Linked DNA regions of Homo sapiens: regions 1, 3 and 4 are each linked to region 2. The links come from fine-mapping of genetic effects on gene expression. A gene starts in region 2. Each other region holds a variant in brackets. All regions are shown on one strand. Distances are between the middles of the regions.

Evidence for each region. PIP is the estimated chance that this variant, and not a neighbour inherited with it, causes the effect. A credible set is the group of variants that fine-mapping cannot tell apart.
Region 1: its variant is the best candidate, but not a certain one, in a credible set for the expression of ATPAF2 in nasal epithelium (TOPMed, PIP 0.60).
Region 3: its variant is the best candidate, but not a certain one, in a credible set for the expression of ATPAF2 in transverse colon (GTEx, PIP 0.73).
Region 4: its variant is the best candidate, but not a certain one, in a credible set for the expression of ATPAF2 in breast (GTEx, PIP 0.55).

What each region holds. Positions count from the first base shown.
Region 1 is chr17:17,921,051-17,926,512 of GRCh38, forward strand. All of the region lies in intron 1 of TOM1L2 (target of myb1 like 2 membrane trafficking protein), which reads right to left. Among named protein-coding and RNA genes, the nearest start is that of TOM1L2, 49 kb to the right of the region's middle. RefSeq lists enhancers at 1-358, 893-1,426, 1,427-1,960, 1,961-2,493 and a silencer at 505-799. The variant G/A (reference allele first, on the strand shown) is at 2,306.
Region 2 is chr17:18,036,517-18,041,978 of GRCh38, forward strand. It overlaps ATPAF2 (ATP synthase mitochondrial F1 complex assembly factor 2), which reads right to left and starts at 2,652. Exons shown (of 8, transcript NM_145691.4): 1 at 2,365-2,652. The coding sequence starts at 2,497. It overlaps GID4 (GID complex subunit 4 homolog), which reads left to right and starts at 2,892. Exons shown (of 6, transcript NM_024052.5): 1 at 2,892-3,386. The coding sequence starts at 2,949. RefSeq lists enhancers at 2,311-2,380, 2,391-2,440, 2,581-2,690, 3,841-3,900 and silencers at 2,801-2,890, 2,901-3,490.
Region 3 is chr17:18,069,611-18,075,072 of GRCh38, forward strand. No RefSeq gene overlaps it. Among named protein-coding and RNA genes, the nearest start is that of DRG2, 16 kb to the right of the region's middle. The variant T/C (reference allele first, on the strand shown) is at 2,992.
Region 4 is chr17:18,112,660-18,118,121 of GRCh38, forward strand. All of the region lies in intron 1 of MYO15A (myosin XVA), which reads left to right. It overlaps LOC105371566 (a long non-coding RNA gene), which reads right to left and starts at 4,902. Exons shown (of 3, transcript NR_164159.1): 1 at 4,683-4,902. The variant C/T (reference allele first, on the strand shown) is at 2,619.

The DNA of each region.
Region 1 (5,462 bases), 120 kb before region 2:
CCTTTTTCTGCTCATGATCCGATCCAGAATACCACACTGCATTTTGTTTTCCTCTCTTTGAAACCTTCTGTTTTCTTTAAAGACCAATAAACTCTCAAACTCCCCAACTTATTCTCCTGTCTGGAGAGCTCAGTTCTAAAGGACAGCTCTGTGTGAGCCCCAATTCCACACCCTGGCCTCATTAGGACACCACATCCTCCCACTCCCCAAACAAAGGAACCCTTCAGGCCAGCCAAACAACAGAGAAAACAGAAGCTTGTTAGCCACACAGGCCCGAGGCTGCTGACCCAAGTTCTTTTTTAACTGGAATTCCCTTGAGGAGGATCCACAGATTTAAAATGCATTTGGGGTGTGCTCTCTAGAAGCAGAGCCACTGGTATTTGATGTATGCCGTTCTTTGTACTTAATGGAATAACTTACGTGTGAGTCAGTGTGTGAGAGTAGCTGGGGGAAGAGGCCAATTTAGGGCCAGGATGGAAATTGGCCATGGGGGAGGAAAGGCCTCTGCAGGAGCCAGCCAGGCCCCAAGATGGTGCCAGGCTTTGGGGAAGAGGGGGCTGTGGCCAGCTTGTCCCAGCCTAGCAGGCTGTGCTCTAATGTCAGACAGGTGGGGGTGGCTGGGAGGATCAAAGTTTCTCTGTGACCTGGTGATCAGGTTACAGTTTCTGCTTAAAGCAGAGCAGATAAGGGAAAGTGGGGGCGGGGTGGGGGGGTGGGATTCACCTGTCCTGTCTTCCTCTCGGCCTCTTCGTGCAGTCTGCTTTGCTGCCAATTTCTTCTTCCCCAGAGCGCCTCCCAGGGGCTGTTCCCCTCGCCCTCGTGCCCACCATTCACCACCAGCACTCTCAGAGAAGAGAGGAGGTGTGCCTGAGAATTTCACAGTGTGCCACACTGTCACCAGCCTTTTTTTTGAGCTTCTCCCGATGACAGAGACACATCCCAGAGATGTGAATGCCACTCCTTGGGAAGGATTATCCAAAGACTTCCCAGCTCAATTTAAAAACTTCAACTGTGAGGCCTCTCCCTGCCAGACTGGGATGGAAAGAAGTAAGATGGAGCCCCTACACTGAAAGCACTCCCCAGGAAAGACCTGCAGCCAGCCATCCAGGACACAGGGCACAGACCTGAGGCTGAACAGGGGAGCAGAGGGGACTGTGAAAGCTAAGAAATGGGCCTGGTACAAGGAAAGAGCAGGAATTTGAAGAGAGAGGAACATCATAGGCTATGCAAACAGCCTCCCAGGGCCAGGGCCTCGGTGAAGGGGAGCGGTGAGAGGAGGCCAGCTCTGGAGTGTCCTTTCATTTTCTCTAAGGAGTCTGGGCTTTCCACAGGAGGCAACATGGGGCTTTTCAACAGGAGTGACAAGAATATTTATGTCTGAGACAGATCGCTCTGGTAACAGCATGGGGGCTGTAGTGGAGTGGAGAGACTGCAGGCAGGAAGCAGGGGGCAGGTTATCACAACTGCTCAGTGAGAAAAGGAGACAGGACAGCATGTTGGTCAAGGTCATGGCTTTGAATCTGGGGACTGGGGGTCAGTCTTGGCTCTCTCTGACCTAGGACACATTTCTCACGCTCTCTGAATTTCATCCATAAAACGGGCAAAACAATTGTACCTCCTCACAGGGTGTGGTTAAGATCAAATAAGTTAGTGATATAAGACACGAAACAGGGAACCTGGAACATAGTGAGGGCGCAATAAATATGAACCACAATTCTTAACTTGTGTATTCTGTGGACTGCATCTCAGGAAAGACGGAATTCCAGCGGGGAAGCAGAAGGGGAGGGTGACTGTCTCCAATGCTTTTATTGCAGCCTCCAGGTGGAATAGTGAAGTGGCCACCTTAACTGCCTCCTGGAGTGTGAGCAGAGAGGACCAGGACAAGGCTGCAATCTGTTGGCCAGGCACCAACTAGCCTGTGAGGCCAACCAGGGACCGCAGGCATCACCAGGAACAAGGCTATAAAAAGGCCTCAAAGAGTGATTACAAAATTCCACACCAGGAGAAAGACTCCCAGAAGTTTCCCAGGGCTCATACCTGCTGTGCTCATTAAAGCCACAGTGTTGGCTGGGCGCAGTGGCTCACGCCTGTAATCCCAGCACTTTGGAAGGCCAAGGCAGGCGGATCGCCTGAGATCAAGAGTTCAAGACCAGCCTGGCCAACTTGATGAAATCCTGGTCTCTACTAAACATACAAAAAAATTAGCCAGGCGTGGTGGTGGGTGCCTGTAATCCCAGCTATTTGGGAGGCTGAGGCAGGAGAATCACTTGAACCCGGGAGGTGGAGGTTGCAGTGAGCCGAGATC[G/A]CGCCACTGCATTCCAGTCTGGGCGACAAGAGTGAAACTCCATCTCAAACAACAACAACAAAACAACAACAACAACAACAACAACAAACACCCATGGTAAAACTTCAACACTTGTATTAACATGTATTTTTAAGCCTGGGCAACATAGGGAGACCCTGTCTCTACAAAAAAAAATTTTTTTTTAATTAGCTGGGCGCAGTGGTGAGCATCTGTAGTTTCACCTACTCCAGAGCCTGAGGCAGGAGGATCACTTGAGGCTAGGAGGTCAAGGCTACAGTGAGTCGTGATCGCACCACTGCACTCCAGCCTGGGCAAGAGGGTGAGACCCCATCTCAAAAGAAAAAAGTTAAAATTGTAGATTTTATGTTATACACATCTTTAAAATGGTAAAAAAGATACTTGGGAGGCAAGAGGATCACTTAAGCCCAGGAACTGGAGGCTGGGAGACACTCCAGTCTGAGAGACAGAGCAAGAACTTGTGTCTAAAAAAGAAAAAAAAAGGCCGGGCGCGGTGGCTGTCGCCTGTAATCTCAGCACTTTGGGAGGTCGAGGTGGGCAGATCATAAGGTCAGGAGTTTGAGACCAGCCTGGCCAACATGGTGAAACCCCGTCTCCACTAAAAAAATACAAAAATTAGCCAGGCATGGTGGTATGCACCTGTAATCCCAGCTACTCGGGAGGCTGAGGCAGGAGAATTACTTGAACCCAGGAGCAGAGGTTGCAGTGAGCCGAGATCGCGCCACTGCACTCCAGAATGGGCAACAGAGCAAGACTCTGTCTCAAACAAAAACAAAAACAAAGGTAAAAATGACTACATATTGTATGATTCCATTTATATAAAATGTCCAGAATAGGCAAATCTATAGAGACAGAAAATAGATTAGTGATTGCCTGGGGTTGGAAGGGCTGGGGGAAATGGGGAGTGATTGCTAATGGGTACGGAATGATGAAAATGTTCTAAAACTGATTGTGGTAATGGCTGAACAACGCTGTGAATACAATGTTTTTTAAAAAAAACTCTGTGACTATACTAAAAACCACTGACTTGTACATTGTAAATGGGTGAATTGTATGGCATATGAATTATATCTCAATAAAGCTGTTGAAAAATGGGAGAAAAGCTACTAGGAATGTGTTCAATGTAGTATTATTTAAAATCCTTAGCTGGGTGCAGTGGCTCAAGCAGGAGGATCACTTAAGCCCAGGAGTTTGAGACCAGCCTGAGCAACATAAACCTTGCCTCTACAAAAAATACAAAATTAGCCAGGCATGGTGGTACATGCCTGTAGTCCCCAGCTACTCAAGAGGCTGAGATAGGAGTATTGCTTCAGCACGGAAGACTGAGGCTGCAGCGAACCGTGATCACATCACTGCACTCCAGCCTGAGGGACAGAGTGAGACCCTGCCTCAAAAATAAAATAAAATTCTTAAAACTTCTCAAATATAAAATAAAAAAGTGATGATTAAATATAGTATATTGATTCCACTGAATATTATATAGCTATTGATATAGTTTGGATATTTGTCCCCACCCAAATCTTATGTTGAATTGTAGTTCCCAATGCTGGAGGTAGGGCCTGGTGGGCAGATCCTTCATGCCTTGATGATGTCTTTGTGATAATTCTTGCAATATCTGGTCAGTTAAAAGTGTGTGGCACTCCCTCCTCCACTCTCTCTCTCTGTTTTTTGTTCCTGTTTTCACCATGTGAGGTGCCTGCTCTCCCTTCCCCTTCTGCCATGAGTAAAAGCTTCCTGAAGCCTCCTCAGAAGCAGCTGCCAGTACTATGCTTCCTATACAGCCTGCAAAACCATGAGCCAAATAAACCTCTTTTATAAATTACCTAGTCTCAGGTATTTCTTTATGGCAATGCAAGAACAACCTAATACAGCCATTATAAGTAATAATTCTTAAAACCATATAGAAACATTTTGTAATGATGTAAGAAAAAAAAGACACAAAATTGATTTTTAAAAAAACATGCATATGGATAATGCCTGGAAGATAAATGGGAAAAAGTGAAAATAATCAGTGTGTTGAAGTATTTGGCTTAAAGGCAAACTTTAAAAATTTTTTATGTTATTACTGTTACAAAAAGAAGGAAAGAGGATATTATACAGCAAAAGACTAAGAAAGAAAGTGGCAAACTAATGACCAAAACTAAAAGCCAGTTATTTAATTCTTCCATCAAAAATAGCCAGGTATAGCCCAGGCGCAGTGGCTCATGCCTCTAATCCCAGCACTTTGCCACGCTGAGGTGGGAGGATCTCTTGAGCTCAGGAGTTCAAGACCAGCCTGGCCAACATAGCGACCTCACCTCGTGTCTACCAAAAAAAAAAAAAAAAAAAAAAATTAGCCAGATGTGGTAACGCATGCCTATAGTCCCAGCTACTTGGGAGGCTGAGGTAGGAAGATCGCTTGAGCCCAGGAGATGGAGGCTGCAGTAAGCTATGATGGTGCCACTGTACTCTAGCCTGGGTGACACAGTGAGACCCTGTCTCAAAAAAAAAAAAAAAAAGCTAGGTATAGGCTATAGGTTAGTCGTGGTGCCTCATGCCCATAATCCCAGCACTTTGGAAGGCCAAGGCAGGAAGTCCACTTGAGCCCAGGAATTCAAAACCAGCCTGGGTAACACAGCAAGACCTTGTCTCTACCAAAAATTTAAAAATTAGCAGGGCTCAGTGGCACGCACCTGTAGTCCCAGCTACTCCACAGGCTGAGGTGAGAGGATCACTTGAGCACAGGATGTCGAGGCCGCAGTGAGTTGTGATCATACCACTGTATTCTAGCCTGGGGGACAGAGTAAAACTCTGTCTCTTGGAGAAAAAAAAAAAAAAAAGCTAGGTACAAGCTTTCAAGCTGGCCTAAACATAAGTAAGCTTCATTACTTAGTCTGAACATACAGACTTAAGGATAAAAGCCTGGTAACCCCAATATCTCTCAAAAGGCATTTTATTCTGACCAGGCCTCCCTGCTAACTCTCCCTTGTCCCAAAGGAGGTCACCCAGGGTACCCAGCTAGTTAAGGAGGACCAAACTGAGAGCCAGTCTGGACTGGCACAAGGGGAGATGCGGACATAAATGTACACGTGTTTCACATTCCAAAGCCAAATACAATAGGGTTCTAGATCATCTGGGAAATTACTCCTATTCATCAACA
Region 2 (5,462 bases):
AGTGAGCCAAGATTGCGCCACTGCACTCCAGCCTGGGTGACAGTGCAAGACTCTGTCTCAAAAAAAAAAAAAAGCATGCATGGGCCTGATTTATGCACCTCCCTTCTCATTCATTCATTCCTATTTTCTTTCACATTTGACTACCTACCATGTGCCAGGTACTTCCAAGAGCCTAACTAGTAAGTTTAGGCTTTTTAAAAAGGAAAAGAAGGCAGTAGATCAAGTGCCACCATTATGTAAAGTGAGCATCCACAAATCTAAATTAACCCTTTGTGGTCAGGCATGGTGGCTCACGCCTGTAATCCCAGCATTTGGGAGGCTGAGGCGGGAGGATCACCTGAGGTCAGGAGTTCATGACCAGTGTGGCCAACATGGTGAAACCCCATCTCTACTAAAAATACAAAATTAGCCACGTGTGGTGGCGGACACCTGTAATCCCAGCTACTTGGGAGGCTGAGGCAGGAGAATTGCTTGAATCTGGGAGGTAGAGGTTGCAGTGAGCCAAGATCACACCATTGCATGCCAGCCTGGGTGACAAGTGTAAAACTCCATCTCAAAATAAATAAATAAATACGTAAATAAATAAATTAATTAACCCTTTGCTTTTTGCCAACTTGGTGAACTCCTGAATGTGTCCCCTTTGCTATGCCTCCCTGGGATGCCCTTCCTTTCTCTTCTTTACTGGCCCTTCATGGCCCATTTCCAGGCCCTTCCCCTGAGTCCTGCAGGTGAAACTTCAGCTCCCTGCTGCATCCAGCCCCCTTCCCCATTTCTATAAAGTTATAGAACTTGGCTGGGCGCGGTGGCTCACGCCTGTAATCCCAGCACTTTGGGAGGCCGAGGTGGGCGGGTCACAAAGTCAGGAGTTCGAGACCAGCCTAGTCAATATAAACCCCATCTCTACTAAAAATACAAAAATTAGCAGGGCATGGTGGCAGACGCCTGTAGTCCCACCTACTTGGGAGGCTGAGACCACAAAATCGCTTGAATCTGGGAGGCGGAGGTTGCAGTGAGCCGAGATGGTGCCACTGCACTCCAGCCTCTGTGACAGAGGAGACTCCGTCTCAAAAAAACACAAAAAAACAGAAGAAGAAGAAAAAAAAAGAACTTGACAGCCAGAAAGATCCTCAAAGGCAACCTAGTACTTCAACGCATGGAGAAAAATGAGGAAGTAGTTGCATGCCCAAGATCACACAGACCTCAGAGGTTCAGCCAGCATCAGATCCTAGATTTGCACTCCTGCCACAATGCCAAACTGCCTGTGAAGTTCTGGATTTTCTAAAACAGGCAGTGTCAGGGAAAAGTCCCTCATACCTTGCTGTCACCCTGGACACGTTCTAGATACCCAACACTCTCCCACCTTTTTGCTGAACTCCTACTCATCTATCATGGCTCAGCTTAAACAAACGCCCTTTCACCCAAGACCCATTCTAAACCCTGAACATCCCCAAGATGGGAGTAAGCGATTCTCTGTGTTCTCACAGTTTCTTTGTATGTCCCTTATCAGGATATTATAAACCACAATTTAATCAGAATATTATAACCTTTTGCAATGAACAGTGAACATCATTCAGGTGGGCCTTTTTCTTCTTTAATTGAGCTTCTCTACCAATACATACAGGTGGGTCTTAAAGACAACCGTGCCTCCTGCCTCCAGCACAATAAAACTAATTGAATGGTGGGAGGGTGTTACTGCTCTTCATTCACTGAAATGAGTCATTCTCACTCTTACCCTGACACCACTCACCATCAGCAATGAAAGAGCCACTACTTCTAAGCTTCATCAGAGTTGGAGGTGGAGGTGACTCCACAGTCAGAGGTGGAGGTGTCAATTTCTATTTAGGAGAGAAGGCTGCAGATGGCAGAGGTTGTGGTAGGAGGGAAAGTCAGGAAACCTGCAGCAGAAGTGCCCGGGATGGAGGAATGAAGGCCCAGGTTCTAGGTCCCTTCTGGGCAGGTCTTGTGTTGGGCAGTGGAGACACGGAAAACAGTCAGACAGACACCACAAACCTCTGAGAGAGTCTGCCTGTAACCCAGACGAAGTCCTGATTCAGAGCCCAAACTTCCCCTTTTGAAAACAAAGATGACACCTGCTTTCCTTATTAAAGGGAGGGCAGCCATAAGCTTTGAGAAAACCTGCACAGGCCAAATATCAATTACTGTATCGTGCGTGACTCGCTGTTCCCTCTCGGGTCGTCTGCCCTTGTCTGGGCTTCACTTTCTCATCTGTAAAAAGACCTGACTGGCCTGCATAACCTCATGAGCCTGAACCCTGCCTCAGTTACTTCGCTTTGCACAGCCGAAGCCCGAAGCCCACCTTACCCCAGCTCGGCCCCAACCCAAAAGAACATGTCATGGTCTTACCTGTCGGCGGGGCGTAAGCCCGGGCTGGAGACGGGATGGTTGGCCCCGGACTCATAGAAGCGCTGGGGCCACCCGCCGGCCGATTCAGGAGACGGCGTCCCCCGTCCCGCAGCCGGAGGCAGCTCCTCCACATCGCGCCCGAGGGTCTGGGAAGATGCGAGACGCGAAACCTGGAGCAGGAAACACAGAGCGATGGGATCCCCAAAGCCGCACGGTCGGGCTGTACGGAAACCTCTCAACGCCTCCTCAGAGCCCTCAACCTCCCTTGGACGCCGCCATCTTCCGCATGACACCTACGGCGCGCCGTCGCCGCCGCGCGCCTCCTGCGCACACCCCCAGTCAATCAGCATCACAAACGCACCTCGCCCCGCCCCCTCCACGCCGCGCCTCGGCGAGGAGACTACAAGTCCCAGCGGGCCGCTCGCGCACCGCGCCACGTGTTTTCTCCTCCCGCCAATGGGCGGAAGCGCCGCCTGAGCCTGCTCCCGCCCCCCAGGCTCGCCTGAGCCAATCGGAAGGGGCGGGGTGTGTGTGTGTCTGTGTGTGTTTGTGTGTTGTGTGTCTGTGAGTGTCTGTGTGTGTGTATGTGTGCGCGAGGGCAAGTCGGGAGGGGGACCCAGCTCAGGACTGGGAGGCCCTGCTCGCAGGTCCCTGGGTCCCGGTGGCGGCCGGAGCGCTTGCTCCGCAGGCAGCGGGCGGGTGGTCGCCCCTCCCGCCCCCACCCCGCGCGTGCGCGCCCCGGCCTCTCCCTCCCCGCCACCCTCCTCGGCTCCCGCGCGGCGGCGGCGGTTCCTCTCCCACTCCCCCCAGCCCTGGCTCCGGGGGACCCCGCGATGCCGGTCCGCACCGAGTGTCCCCCGCCGGCCGGTGCCTCCGCTGCCTCCGCGGCCTCACTCATCCCGCCGCCGCCCATCAACACCCAGCAGCCCGGCGTGGCCACCAGCCTGCTCTACAGCGGCTCCAAGTTCCGCGGCCACCAGAAGAGCAAGGGGAACTCGTACGACGTAGAGGTGGTGCTGCAGGTGAGCGCCGGGCCGGGCCGGGGCCCGAGGGCCTCCTCGCGGCGCTCACGGGCCGTGCCCGCTTCGGCTCCTCGACCCCGCAGCCGCGGAACAGGCCCTCGCCGCCGGGGCCTCCTGCACCCGGCGCTTCCCACCCGGGACCTTCCCAGCCTGTGTCTCACACTCTCCGAGCCCCAGCCCTGACCTGCCCCTTCGGACCCAGAGCCCGTCGTGACCGGCTCCTGGCGGACCCCGAACACTCCCAGACTTGAAGCCCGTGACCGGCCCGTCTGGGATCCGGAAGCCCCTCATGACTCGGAGAAGGCCTGGGTCCTTCCTCCCCATGACCTGTCGTCCCTAGATCAGGGACTGCCACCAGCCCTTTTCAGACCCTGAAGAACTCTCCATTGGTTTCACCAGACTTGGGACCCTCCCCATGTCTGGGCCCACGTCAGATTCTCTCAGACCTGAGACATGTCCTCCTGCCCCTTCCTCAGTTCCAGGAATCCGCAGACCTTGGGGTCTTCCTCCTCCTGAGATCTCCTTAGGAGGGCTTCATCAGACCCCCAGACGGGGGAGCACCTAACCCGCAACTGATTGGTCAGGCCCTGGCCTCACCTCAAGACCAGGCACTCACTCCCTGAGTGCTGCTCACAGTCTGTTGGGATGTTGCCTCCTGGGTCCCCTGTTCCACTCACTGCTTCTGTCTCTTCATGGTCCAGGCACCCAGCTCCTTCCAGCTTCTCCACCCCCAGGCCTCCTGCCCCTGCTCTGGGACCATTTGCAGTCTTTTCCCAGTCTTCCTGGCCTCTATCCAGACTTCCCCACCCCATACCTTCGTCTTGCTCGATCCTGGTTCCAGGGGACCCTCTTTCCTGTTCTTAACTTTTCTCTACACAGGCACAGGGCTTCCTCTTAGTCTCTGGTACCCATGTACTGGGAAATCTAACTCACCCAATTTTAGTTCATGTCCAGTCGCCTCCCCCCATTTGACCTGGATTCCTGAATACCTGCTGCCAGTCCCTGATCAGCTTCGGAAGTACAGCTTCACTTGTCTGGGCCTTTCCCACACCTCACTCCTCTCAGGCTTGACACTTTTTGCCAGCTGAAATGGAGTGGCAGTGGTGAATACTCTTTTATCTCCCCTCCCCACAAAACTCTTCCTCCTCTATACCTACCCCTGCCTGACTAAGGACCCCTTTCCCCTTCCCTTTGCCCTTTTTTTCCTTAGTCTGACACCTCATCTGCCAGGCTGTTCCCAGAAGCCCCTCCAAACACCTGTCCCTCTGAAAGGCACTGTGTGCTGCCCCACTGCCTCCCCCCCGCCCCACCCCCCGGGGTGTGAGGGTGGAATGTACAGTATATTTATTCCTCAAGCTCTCCTTTTGGTCATTTAAAACAAATCTTAGTTTCACTTCTGAAGAGTAGGTCTCCCATCCAAAAGACAATGAGGGTGCCTTTTCTTTCTGCTAACTGCGGAGCACTCATCACTCTTTTATTCTCATACTGCTTTGTGGGAATAAATCATTTTCTCTGCTTACTTGAAACAGCATCGTCATGTTAATCATATCTTTGGGCTGTAAAGTTCTATCATGAGCCACGATAGTTATTATAATGGAAATACGATTGTGGCTGAAATATTTTTGTCTTCATAACTGTATGCCTAATGTAGTGATCCTCTTCTTAAAATGTGAGAGTCGAGTATGAAGGTACAGGGGTTTTTCGGTTTGTTTTGCACCTAGTCATAGAATTCTGGAGGTGAGATCCCTGGGTGGGTCACGTTTGGGATGATCTTGGATTTGTCCCTGTTGTTCAGTTTGATGGTTTCTGATGTAGTAGGGGACAATTGGCAAGATAGCCAGGCGTCAAAGGGGAGTCTGCTTTGGCTACTGCAGCAACTGCTGCTCCCTTCTGTCATTAGGGTATCACTTCTGAGCTCCTTTCAGAAGGAGAATCATGAACCAGGGGAAGCAGTGGTTGAGTTGGGGCAGGGCTGATAGGTCTCAGGCAGCCCAGAGCAGAAACCTGGTGGATGGCTGGGAGCCACTTGAGTAAGATGTCTGATGGTGGGGGTGGTGGTCATGCCAATGAATGCTG
Region 3 (5,462 bases), 33 kb after region 2:
TGGACTAAAGAATTGTTGAGGATTCTAGAAGATGCTCCTGAAAGCACATTGTAAATTGAATAAGAATAATTGTAAATTGAATAACATGTAAAAAGTTATTCTTGCTTAATAATAATATAAAAATATCTACTGGGCCAGGGTGCGGTGGCTCATGCCAGTAATCCCAGCACTTTGGGAGGCTGAGGTGGGAGGATCACTTGAGGTCAGGAGTTCGAGACCAGCCTAGCCAACATGGTGAAACCCCATTTCTACTAAAAATACAAAAACTAGCCGGGCATGGTGGCGGGTGCCTGTAGTCCCAGCTACCAGGAAGCTGAGGCAGGAGAATCACTTGAACCAGGGAGGCAGAGGTTGCAGTGAGCCAAGGTCGTGCCACTGCACTCCAGCCTGAGTGGCAGAATGAGATTCCATCTCAAAAAAATATAAATAAATAAAAAGTATCTACTGAGCCTTGCCACATGCACCATTGTAGGTATTGAGGGTGATGCAGGAATAAAACATGTCTACAACAGCTATAGCAACTCTCTTTCATATCTCGATTCTTAGATCCCCAATTTATAACCTTTAGTTAGCTTTGTTTTTAGGCCATCTATAGGAACTGTAGAAATAGTAGAAATTGTGTAGATTTTAAGTGTGAAACCAATTGCAAAACAGGACAAAAGGAAAACTATAAGAATGCTGTCGGCTGGGCGCGGTGGCTCACGCCTGTAATTCCAGCACTTTGGGAGGCCAAGGTGGGCGGATCACAAGGTCAGGAGATCAAGACTCATCCTGGCTAACACGGTGAAACCCCGTCTCTACTAAAAATACAAAAAGTTAGCTGGGCGTGGTGGCAGGCCCCTGTAGTCCCAGCTACTCAGGAGACCGAGGCAGGAGAATGGCGTGAACCCGGGAGGCGGAGCTTGCAGTGAGCCGAGATAGCGCCACTGCACTCCAGCCTGGGCGATAGTGCAAAGACTCCATCTCAAAAAAAACAACAACAAAAAAAGTGCTATCTCCACTCATCTGAACTGCACCTGGGAAGGGAAGCATTAAAATTGCTCAGTAATGAAATAGGCAGTAGGCTTTGATATATTTAAAAATAAAAATTAAAAAAAAAAGCCTCAAAGTTGGATTGCAGTTGAACAGCTTTTCCCTCCAGATTTTTCTTCCAAAACATCGAAAGATTGAAACTCCCTATTTGTACATAGCAGGGAAAACATGTAAGGCTTTTCATTTGTAGAGAAACATATGCTGGATTCAAGTTTATTTTTGCCATTTTTTTCCTTCTGATTTTTCAGTTCGCTTCATTTTTCAATGCATTAGTCATGGTTTCTCTCCATAATCGCTCCACAGCCCCTCCATCTTCATGCCTTCTCACTGGCTTGACCTGGAGCAGTGTTTCTGAAACCTGGCTGCACTTCAGAAGCACATGGGAGCTGATTTAATGTCAGGCAGCATGCAGACCAGTCCTCACAACCTGTCGATGTTTTTAAAGCTCCCCGGGTGACTCCAACGCACAGGAAGCTTTGAGCGTAACTAAGTGAGCCTCCCGCCCTGAAATGAGAGAAAGGCTTTCAGGCTTGTGGTGTTGGTGGACTAAGTGTGGCTTCTGGCCATTCACACAGTCACCACACTGCAAGGGAGCTGGGAACTGGAGCCTGTGAGAAGCCCCTGTGAACAATGTTCTCTGTCTTAAAACAGCTTACACGGACTTCTCCTTTTTACCTCTAAAAGATTCATTCCCCTTTCCCCAACCATATACCCCAGATTGCAACCCCTTGCTATTCTCAAATAAACTTTTTGTTTTGGAGTGTCAGTCTCTCTCTCGCTTATTTTAGCTTGATGTGAGTAGCTTGCAGAGTTGTGCTGCATAAGGAAAGAAAATAAATAGGAAGTAGCTGTCAGGGGAGTGGGCTAGAAATGGGTTGTTGGTTTGGTTATTTCTGCAGGGGGAGGGGTTTTCTGCAAATTATATGTAATGAGGCTTTGTTTATTGTGGTAAAATGTGTATTACATAAAATTTACCACTTTAACCACTCATAAGTGTACAGTTCAGTAGTATTAAGTACATTCACATTGTGTTCCTATCACCACTGTTTCCAGAAGTTTTCCATCATCCTAAAGAAATTCTGGACTCAGTAAACGCTATCTAAATCCCCATTCCTCCCCCTAGTCCTGATAACCACCATTCTATTTTCTGTCCCCATGAATTTGTCTAGATCCCTCATAGAAATGAAATCATAATAGTATTTATCTTTGTGTGACTGGTTTTTTTCACTTGTAGAATGTGTCAGAATTTCTTTCTATGCTATGGCTGATACTCCATTGTATGTATATAACACATTTTATCCATCTGTTGATGAACATTTGGGCTGTTTCTACCTTTTGACTATTATGCATTGTGCTGTTATGAACACTGGTTTGTGTGGTCAGTATCTGTTTGAGTACCTGCTTTCAAGTATTTTGAGTTTGTAACTAAGGAGTGGAATTGCTAGATCATATAATTCTATGCTTAACTTCTTGAGGAACACCAAACTGTTTCTCATAGTGGCTGCACCATTTTACATTCTCTCCAGCAGTACACAATGATTCCATTTTCTCCATATCCTCTCCAACACCTGTTTTCCTTTTTAAATTTTTTTTTTTTTTCTTGAGACAGAGTCTCACTCTGTCGCCAGGCTGGAGTGCAGTGGCACAATCTCGGCTCACTGCAACCTCCACCTCCCGGGTTCAAGTGATTCTCCTGCCTCAGCCTCCCAAGTAGCTGGGACTACAAGGCACGTGCCACCACGCCCAGCTAATTTTTGTATTTTTAGTAGAGATGGGGTTTCACCATGTTGGTCAGGTTGGTCTGAATCTCTTGACCTCGTGGTCTGCCCACCTCGGCCTCCCAAAGTGCTGGGATTACAGGCGTGAGCCACTGTGCCCAGCCTTAAAATTTTTATAATGGCCATCCTAATGGGTGTGAAGTGATACGTCACTGTGATTTTTGTTGTTGTTTTTCTGAGA[T/C]GGTATCATTCTGTCACCTAGACTGGAGTGCAGTGGCTTTTCTTTTTTCTTTTTTTTTGAGACAGAGTTTTCCTCTTGTTGCCCAGGCTGGAGTGCAATGGCACGATCTTGGCTCACTGCAACCTCCGCCTCCCAGGTTCAAGCGATTCTCCTGCCTCAGCCTCCTGAGTAGCTGGGATTAGAGGCACCTGCCACCATGCCTGGCTAATTTTTGTATTTTTAGTAGAGATGGGGTTTCATGATGTTGGCCAGGCTGGTCTTGAACTTCTGACCACAGGTGATCTGCCCACCTCGGCCTCCCAAAGTGCTAGGATTACAGGCATGATCCACTGCGCCTGGCCGTGCAGTGGCATTTCTGCACTCCATAATCATGACTCACTGTGGCCTTGACCTCCTGGGCTCAAGCAATTCTCCTTCCTCAGCCTCCCAAGTAGCTGCGACTACAGATGCACGCCACCACACCCAGCTAATTTTTTTTCAAAATATTTGTAGAGACTGGCTCTCACTATGTTGATTTGCATTTACCTAATGATTAGTGATGCTGAGAAATCATCTCAAGTGTTTATTCAACATTTGTATATCTTCTTTGGAGAAATGTCTATTCAAGTCCTTTGCTTTTTTTTTTTTTTTTTTTTTTTTTTTTTTTTTGTAGAGACAGGGTCTCACTACGTTGCCCAGGATCTCTGCTTTCTTTTTTTTTTTTTTTTGAGACAGAGTCTTCCTGTGTCGCCCAGGCTGGAGTACAGTGGTGTGAGCTTAACTCACTGCAACCTGCACCTCCTGGGTTCAAGCGATTGTCCTGCCTCAGCCTCCTGAGTAGCTGGGATTACAGGTGCCCACCACAACGCCAAGCTAATTTTTGTATTTTTAGTAGAGATGGGGTTTCACCATGTTGGCCAGGCTGGTCTTGAACTCCTGATCTCGCAATTCGCCCACCTCAGCCTCCCAAAGTGCTGGGATTACAGGTGTGAGCCACTGCACCCGGCCCCCTGCTCATTTTTAAATCAGGTGCATTGTTTCATTGTTGCTGAATTGTAGGTGTTCTCTATATTTTCTAGATATTAATTCCTTATCAGATACATGCTTTGCAAATATTTTCTCCTATTATTCTGTGGGGTCTCTTTACCATCTCTTTTTTTTTTTTTTTTTTGAGACAGAGTCTCACTCTGTCGCCCGGGCTGGAGTGCAGTGGCACGATCTTGGCTCACTGCAACTTCTGCCTCTCAAGTTCAAGTGATTCTCTTGCTTCACCCTCCCGAGTAGCTGGGATTACAGATGCCTGCCACTACGCCCAGCTACTTTTTGTATTTTTAGTAGAGATGGGGTTTCACCATGTTGGCCAGGCTGGTCTCGAACTCCTGATCTCGCAATTTGCCCACCTCAGCCTCCCAAAGTGCTGGGATTACAGGCACGAGCCACCGTGCCCGGCGGCCTCTTCATGCTCTTGATAGTGCCTTAATGATGCACAAAAGTTTTTTTTTTTTTTTTTTTTTTTTTTGAGACGGAGTCTCGCTCGGTCGCCCAGGCTGGAGTGCAGTGCTATCTCAGCTCACTGCAAGCTCTGCCTCCTGGGTTCACACCATTCTCCTGCTTCAGCCTCCCAGTAGCTGGGACTACAGGCGCCCTCCACCACTCCTGGGTAATTTTTTTTTTTTTTGTATTTTTAGTAGAGACGGGGTTTCACCGTGTTAGCCAGGACGGTCTCGATCTCCTGACCTCGTGATCCGCCCACCTCAGCCTCCCAAAGTGTTAGGATTACAGGCGTGAGCCACCGCGCCTGGCAAAAGTTTTTCTTTTTGATATAATCCCATTTATCTATTTTTTTTTTCATTTTGTTGCCTGTACTTTTGGTGTCATATCCAAGGAACCATTGCCAAATTTTAATGAATTTCTAGGTAACCATTTATTATAAATTATAGTACAGCTATATAATGAAACACCTCTCAGCATTTCTTATAAAAAGAAATGTACTATAGCGATACAACACAGATGAATCTGGAAACATTATGCTGAGCAGAGGAATCTAGACACAGAAGACGATATGCTGTGTGATTCCGTTCAGATGAAGTTGTAGAAAAGATGAGTCTAACTGGTAGTGATAGAAAGCAGATGGGTGGCAGCCTGGGGCTGAGTTGGGGTGAGGACTGAGTGCGGGGGGGTGGTGGTTTCTGGAGTGATAGAGATGTTCTGTGTGTCAAATGTGGGGGTGGCTGCATCGCCCTATGCATTTGTCAGAACTCATTGAATTATGCACTGGAGAATGGTGTGTTTTATTGCAAGTAAATTATGCTTAAAAAAAAGTTGAATCAAAAATATTTTTAAAAACCATCCATTAATTCAGAAACAGTAGGGATGCATTGTACAAAACTAGAAAATTCAGACCAGCAAGAGAAGGAGTTTTGCTTACTTTTCCGAAGGGAGGTGTGACAGCATATTTGTATGCTGTTGAAAATGACACAGCAGAATGCAAA
Region 4 (5,462 bases), 76 kb after region 2:
GGCCTCCCGAAGTGCTGGGACTACAGGTGTGAGCCAGCGCACCTAGCCCACATTTACACTTTTAAATGTTACATTTTTTTTGGTTTTTGACTCAGAAATGCATTCATATGGATAAAAATCAAACTAATATAGAAAGATTTACAGTGAGATAACTATTCTCATTAATTTCTTATGTATCTTTTGCTGTATTATTATTATTTTTTTTTGAAACGGAGTCTCACTCTGTCACCTGGACCGGAGTGCAGTAGCATGATCTCAGCTCACTGCAACCTCTGCCTCCCGGGTTCAAGAAATTCTCCTGCCTCAGCCTCCCAAGTAGCTAGGACTACAGGCACACGCTGCTACACCCAGCTAATTTTTTTGTATTTTAGTAGAGATGGGGTTTCACCGTGTTGCCCAGGCTGGTCTCGAACTCCTGAGCTCAGGTAATCAGCCTACCTTGGCCTCTCAAAGTGCTAGGATTACAGGTGTGAGCCACCACACCTGGCGCTGTATTTCTTTTGTTTGTTTTGACACAGAGTCTTGCTCTGTGTCAGAGGCTGGAGTGCAGTGGCATGATCACAACTCACTGCAGCCTCAAAATCCTGGCTCAAGCGATCCTCCCACTTCAGCCTCCTGAGTAGCTGGGCCTACAGGTGCTTGCCACCTGTAATTTTTCGGTTTGTTATCTAGGGACAGGGTCTCGTTATATTGCCTGGGCTAGTTTCAAACTCCTGGGCTCCTCCCATCTCAGCTTTTCAAAGTGCCCAGGCATGAGCCACTGCTCCTGGCTGCAGTATTTCTAATATGGAAATAAAAAAGCAAACACAAGCTGAGCATGGTGGCTCAGTGGCTCATGCCTATAATCCCAGCACTTTGGGAGGATGAGGTGGGCAGATCACTTGAGGCCAGGAGTTCAAGACCAGCCCGGCCAACATGGCAAAACCCTGTCCCTACTAAAAATACAAAAATTAGTCAGGCATGGTGGTGCATGCCTGTAATTCCAGCTACTCAGGAAGCTGAGGCCTAGGAGGTGGAGGTTGCAGTGAGCTGAGATCGCATCACTGCTCTCCAGCCCGGTTGACGGAGTGAGACTGTCTCAAAAAAAAAAAAAAGGCAAACATAAGAATACAAACTTATATTCTTAGCACCTCCCCTGACACACACACACACACACACACACACACACACACACACACACACTCTTCCTACAGAAAGGCCTCAGTAAACACTGTAGTCAACAGGCTGATCTGCAGCCTGCTTCCTGCACTAGCAGGTCCTGGAGATCGCTCCCTATCAGGACACAGAGATCGTCCACATTCCTTGTTATAGCTGTGTTGTGTTCCATCCTGGAATGCATTGTGGTGTACTGCAGCAATGAGCAGCTCTGTTTGTGTGTCCTTACCCATAAGGACGTGTAAGAGAGATCCCCAGGGGTGGATTACTTGCATCCTTCCTTCCTTCCCTCCCTCTTGTCCTTTTTCTTTTTTAAAACAATCAATATATAATCCGCACTCCATACAATTCACCCATCAAAGTGTACAATGCTGTGGTTTTAGTATGCTCACAAGTGTGCCCACCTTGTGACCACCACAGTCCTGTCTTTTTTTTTTTTTTTTTTTTTTTTTTGAGACGGAGTTTTTGCTCTTGTTGCCCAGGCTGGAGTGCAATGGCTTCATCTTGGCTCACTGCAACCTCTGCCTCCCAGGTTCAAGTGATTCTCCTGCCTCAGCCTCCTGAGTAGCTGCAATTACAGGCATGCGCCACCACGCCCAGCTAATTTTTGTATTTTTAGTGGAAATGAGGTTTTACCATGTTGGTCAGGCTGGTCTCGAACTCTTGACCACATATGATCCACCTGCCTTGGCCTCCCAGAGTGCTGGGATTACAGGCATGAGCCACTGCACCTGGCCCTGGTCCTGTCTTTCTTGAAACCTCTTCCATCAGGTGTAACTTCCCTTGCCCCTGCTACTGTACTGGGACCATTCTTGTCACAGTCACCCCTGGAGCTCTAAGGAGCTGCATCCATTAGTCAGCTCTCCATTCTTGACTAACATGCTCATCTGTCATAGCGGTCCCATCTGTCATAGCAGTCCCGCCCTCCTGTGCAGCCCCCAGGACCCCACTCCCTCCTGGGCCTCTACCTCCTCCTCTGGCTGGCTTCGTGGTGCTCACTCACTGCCTCCTTGGCTCCTAAGCACTGCAGCCCTGCGGCTCATTCCGTGGCCTCTCTTCCCTCTATACTCATTCCCTGGTGTCATCCTCCAGAGCTGTGGCTTCAATGCCATCTAGATGCCAATGACTCCCTAACTGATGTCACCAGCCCTGGTGGCTGTGATGGCCCCCCAGCAGTGCCCAGTGCCCAAAGCTGGATCCTGGGCCCTACTTCCTCAATTTGCTCTGTCTGCAGCCTTCCTCATCCTGGCCAATGACCTGACGGCCTCTCCATTCTCCCTGATGTTCAGTAAGGAAACTTGGGAGCCATTCCTGCACCCTGCCTCATCCCCATCATCAAATCCTGTCAGTCCTACCTGCCACATGTCCCCAGCATCCTACCACTTCTCCACACTTTAACCGCTGGCAGCCTGGTGCAGGAGGACCTCCATAGAAGCTTCCATGCTGGCCTCCCTGCCTTCACC[C/T]TCACTCCTGCAGCCGCTTCTCCCATAGCAGTAGAGGCTGCTATCAAGACTGAGGTCGAGGCTAGGCTTGGTGGCTCACGGATGTAATCCCAACACTTTGGGAGGTCGAGGCAGGCAGATCACCTGAGGTCAGGAGTTCGAAACCAGCCTGGCCAACATGGTGAAACCCTGTCTCTACTAAAAATACAAAATTAGCTGGGCGTGGCGGTGTGTGTCTGTAATCCCAGTTTCTTGGGAAGCTGAGGCAGGAGAATTGCTTAAACCTGGGAGGCAGAGGTTGCCGTGAGCCAAGATCGCACCATCGCACTCCAGCCTGAGCAGCACAGCGAGACTCTGTCTCAAAAAAAAAAGACTGAGGTCGAATTCCATCCCTTCTCTGCCAAAACCCTCCTCCCACGGCTCCTGCCTCACTGGCAGTCGAAGCCAAGCCCTCATTGTGGCCCACAGGCCCTGCACATGTGCCCCTGAACTCTGACCTCACCACCCAGTGCACCCCCACTGCCCTCCAGCCACCTGGCCTGTCTGCTCCTCCACCTGCTTGGGACTGTGCACTGCCCACAGGCTCTCTCCATGGCCCCATAGCCACTAGGCCTTCCCTGACTTCCTGTTTAATGTCACAACCCCACTTCTTGCTGTCCCTTCCACGGCACTTACGCCCCATTATCTGTTACTGATTTTCCATGTTTATTGGCTTTCTCTCCACCCACATATGGTAACTGCATGAGGGCAGGGTTTTTCTCTGTTTTGTTCACAGCTGTGTCCCAGCACTTAGACGGTGCCTAGCATGCAGCACACTTCCCACAGAGGCTTTTGAATGAATGGGTGAGTGAGTAAATGCTGGCTCAGGACCCTTAGGGAAAGGGGCCAGGCTGACTGAGGAATCCAGGTTGGGGTAGCGGTGGGCAAGCACTGGAGAGGCCTTGGTGCCTGTTGGAGGCCCAGCTGGGCTCTGGTTTGCCCAGTGGCTTGGTCAGGGCCCTCCCCCTCCAGGCAGGAGCAGGTTGTGGGGTTAGCACGACTATGCTCCTGGCTCTGCCCAGTGTCCTAAGCCACTCTAAACCCAGTGATGACCCAGGAGCTCAGCGGGCAGGAGGGCCTAGTAAGGGAGGTAGCTCTGGACTCGGCCAGGCCTGGGTTCTACCTTCCCAAGCCAGGTGGCCTCGAGCAAGTCCCTTCATCTTTTGAGTCTGAGTTTCCTCATCCGGAGAATGGATATACTAATAGCTCATATCTCACAGACCTGCTGTGAGAGTCCCATGAGACCACTGTGCAACACACCTGACTGGGGCCTCACTTTGGAAACTGGCTCCAAGAGGAGCTGGGGCAGTTGTTGATATCTCCAGGCTCAGAAAGAATGTCTCGGCTGGGCGCCGTGGCTCACATCTGTAATGTCAGCACTTTGGGAGGCCAAGGTTGGTGGATCACCTGAGATCAGGAGTTTGAGACCATCCCGGCCAACATGGTAAAAACCGTCTCTACTAAAAATACAAAAATTGGCCAGGCGTGGTGGCACATGCCTGTAATCCAAGATATTTGGGAGACTGAGGCACAAGAATTGCTTGAACCCGGGAGGCGGAGGTTGCAGTGAGCCGAGATTGCACCACTGCCCTCCAGCCTGGGCAACAGAGCGAGACTCTGTCTCAAAAAAAAAAAAAGAAAGAAAGAAAGAACATTGCCCCTGTCCTTCATTTTTCCTCAAGCGGGCAAGAGCCACTGCCCAAAAACAGAAGGGAGAGTGGGCAGCCCCTCAAACTCCTGCTGTGCAGGAGGCCCACTTCCTGCACGTATCCCCTAACTCGCTCCAAAAGCCCTCCATCCAATTTCTCTGGTTTCCATCAAGCCCCACTCCCCATCCCTGTGAGACTGCCTGCACCAGGCACCAACAGCCCCTGGTGCAACTCCTCTGAGTGGCTGGGCACTGACTGGCTCCAGGTGAATCTTGGGGAGGAGGAGCAGGAAGAAGAGGAAAGTGAAGAGCCAGAGAAAGTGAGCAGGGGGAAGAGGCAGACAGAGAGGGGGAGACCTCACTTGCTGCATGGTCCCCTCTCTGCTCCTGCCACTTACCTGGGAAGGCCTCACCCTGTCCCTGTTTCACAGCTGAGCACGTTGAGGCTCTGAAGCCACTGATCTGAGGGCGTGGAGCTGGCAAGTGGCAGAACCAGGGCCAGAACCTTGCTGCTTTGGGGTCTCCTATGCTAAACCTTAAACAACCAAAGAATTAGCTCTGGGACCAAAAGAGTGAACCAGAGTTCAGTGAGTTGAGGTCCATCTTGAGGAGGAAGAGGAGGAGGAGAGCTGGTTCTGAGGCTTCAGGTCTCAGAGCTGCCACTCCCCACCTCCGCTGGCCTGCCCAGTTTTTCCCACCCCCTACCTCTTTTAGTGCAGGTTCTCAAAAGTGAGTTAGACTGGCCACCAACCAGACTTTGGACATGCAGCCTTAGGTCAGGCCATATGAAGCAATCAGCTATGCCCAGAGAAGGCAGTAACCACATGGCCACAGCCTACTCAGCCAGGGCAGAAAGTAAGAGGAGAGGACAGGGCTAGGCAGGGACCCCAGAAAGGAGCCAGCAGGAGGCATCTCCAGTTACCCAGCAGCTCCATCAGGTCTTGCTTCCTTTTGGTGAAGGAGATGGGGCATAGCTTATCACTCCCATTCTTCAGAGGAAACTGAGGCCCAGAGAGGACAAGGACTTTCCTGGACCCACACAGCCAGTCAGTGACAGAGCCTAGGGTCTGAGCCAGGCCTGACCCAACCTCCATTTCTGCCTCTCTACCCCTGCCCCCGCCCCAACACACACACACACACAAGTGGAGTTCCACTGAAACGCCCCTCCTTGCCCTGCC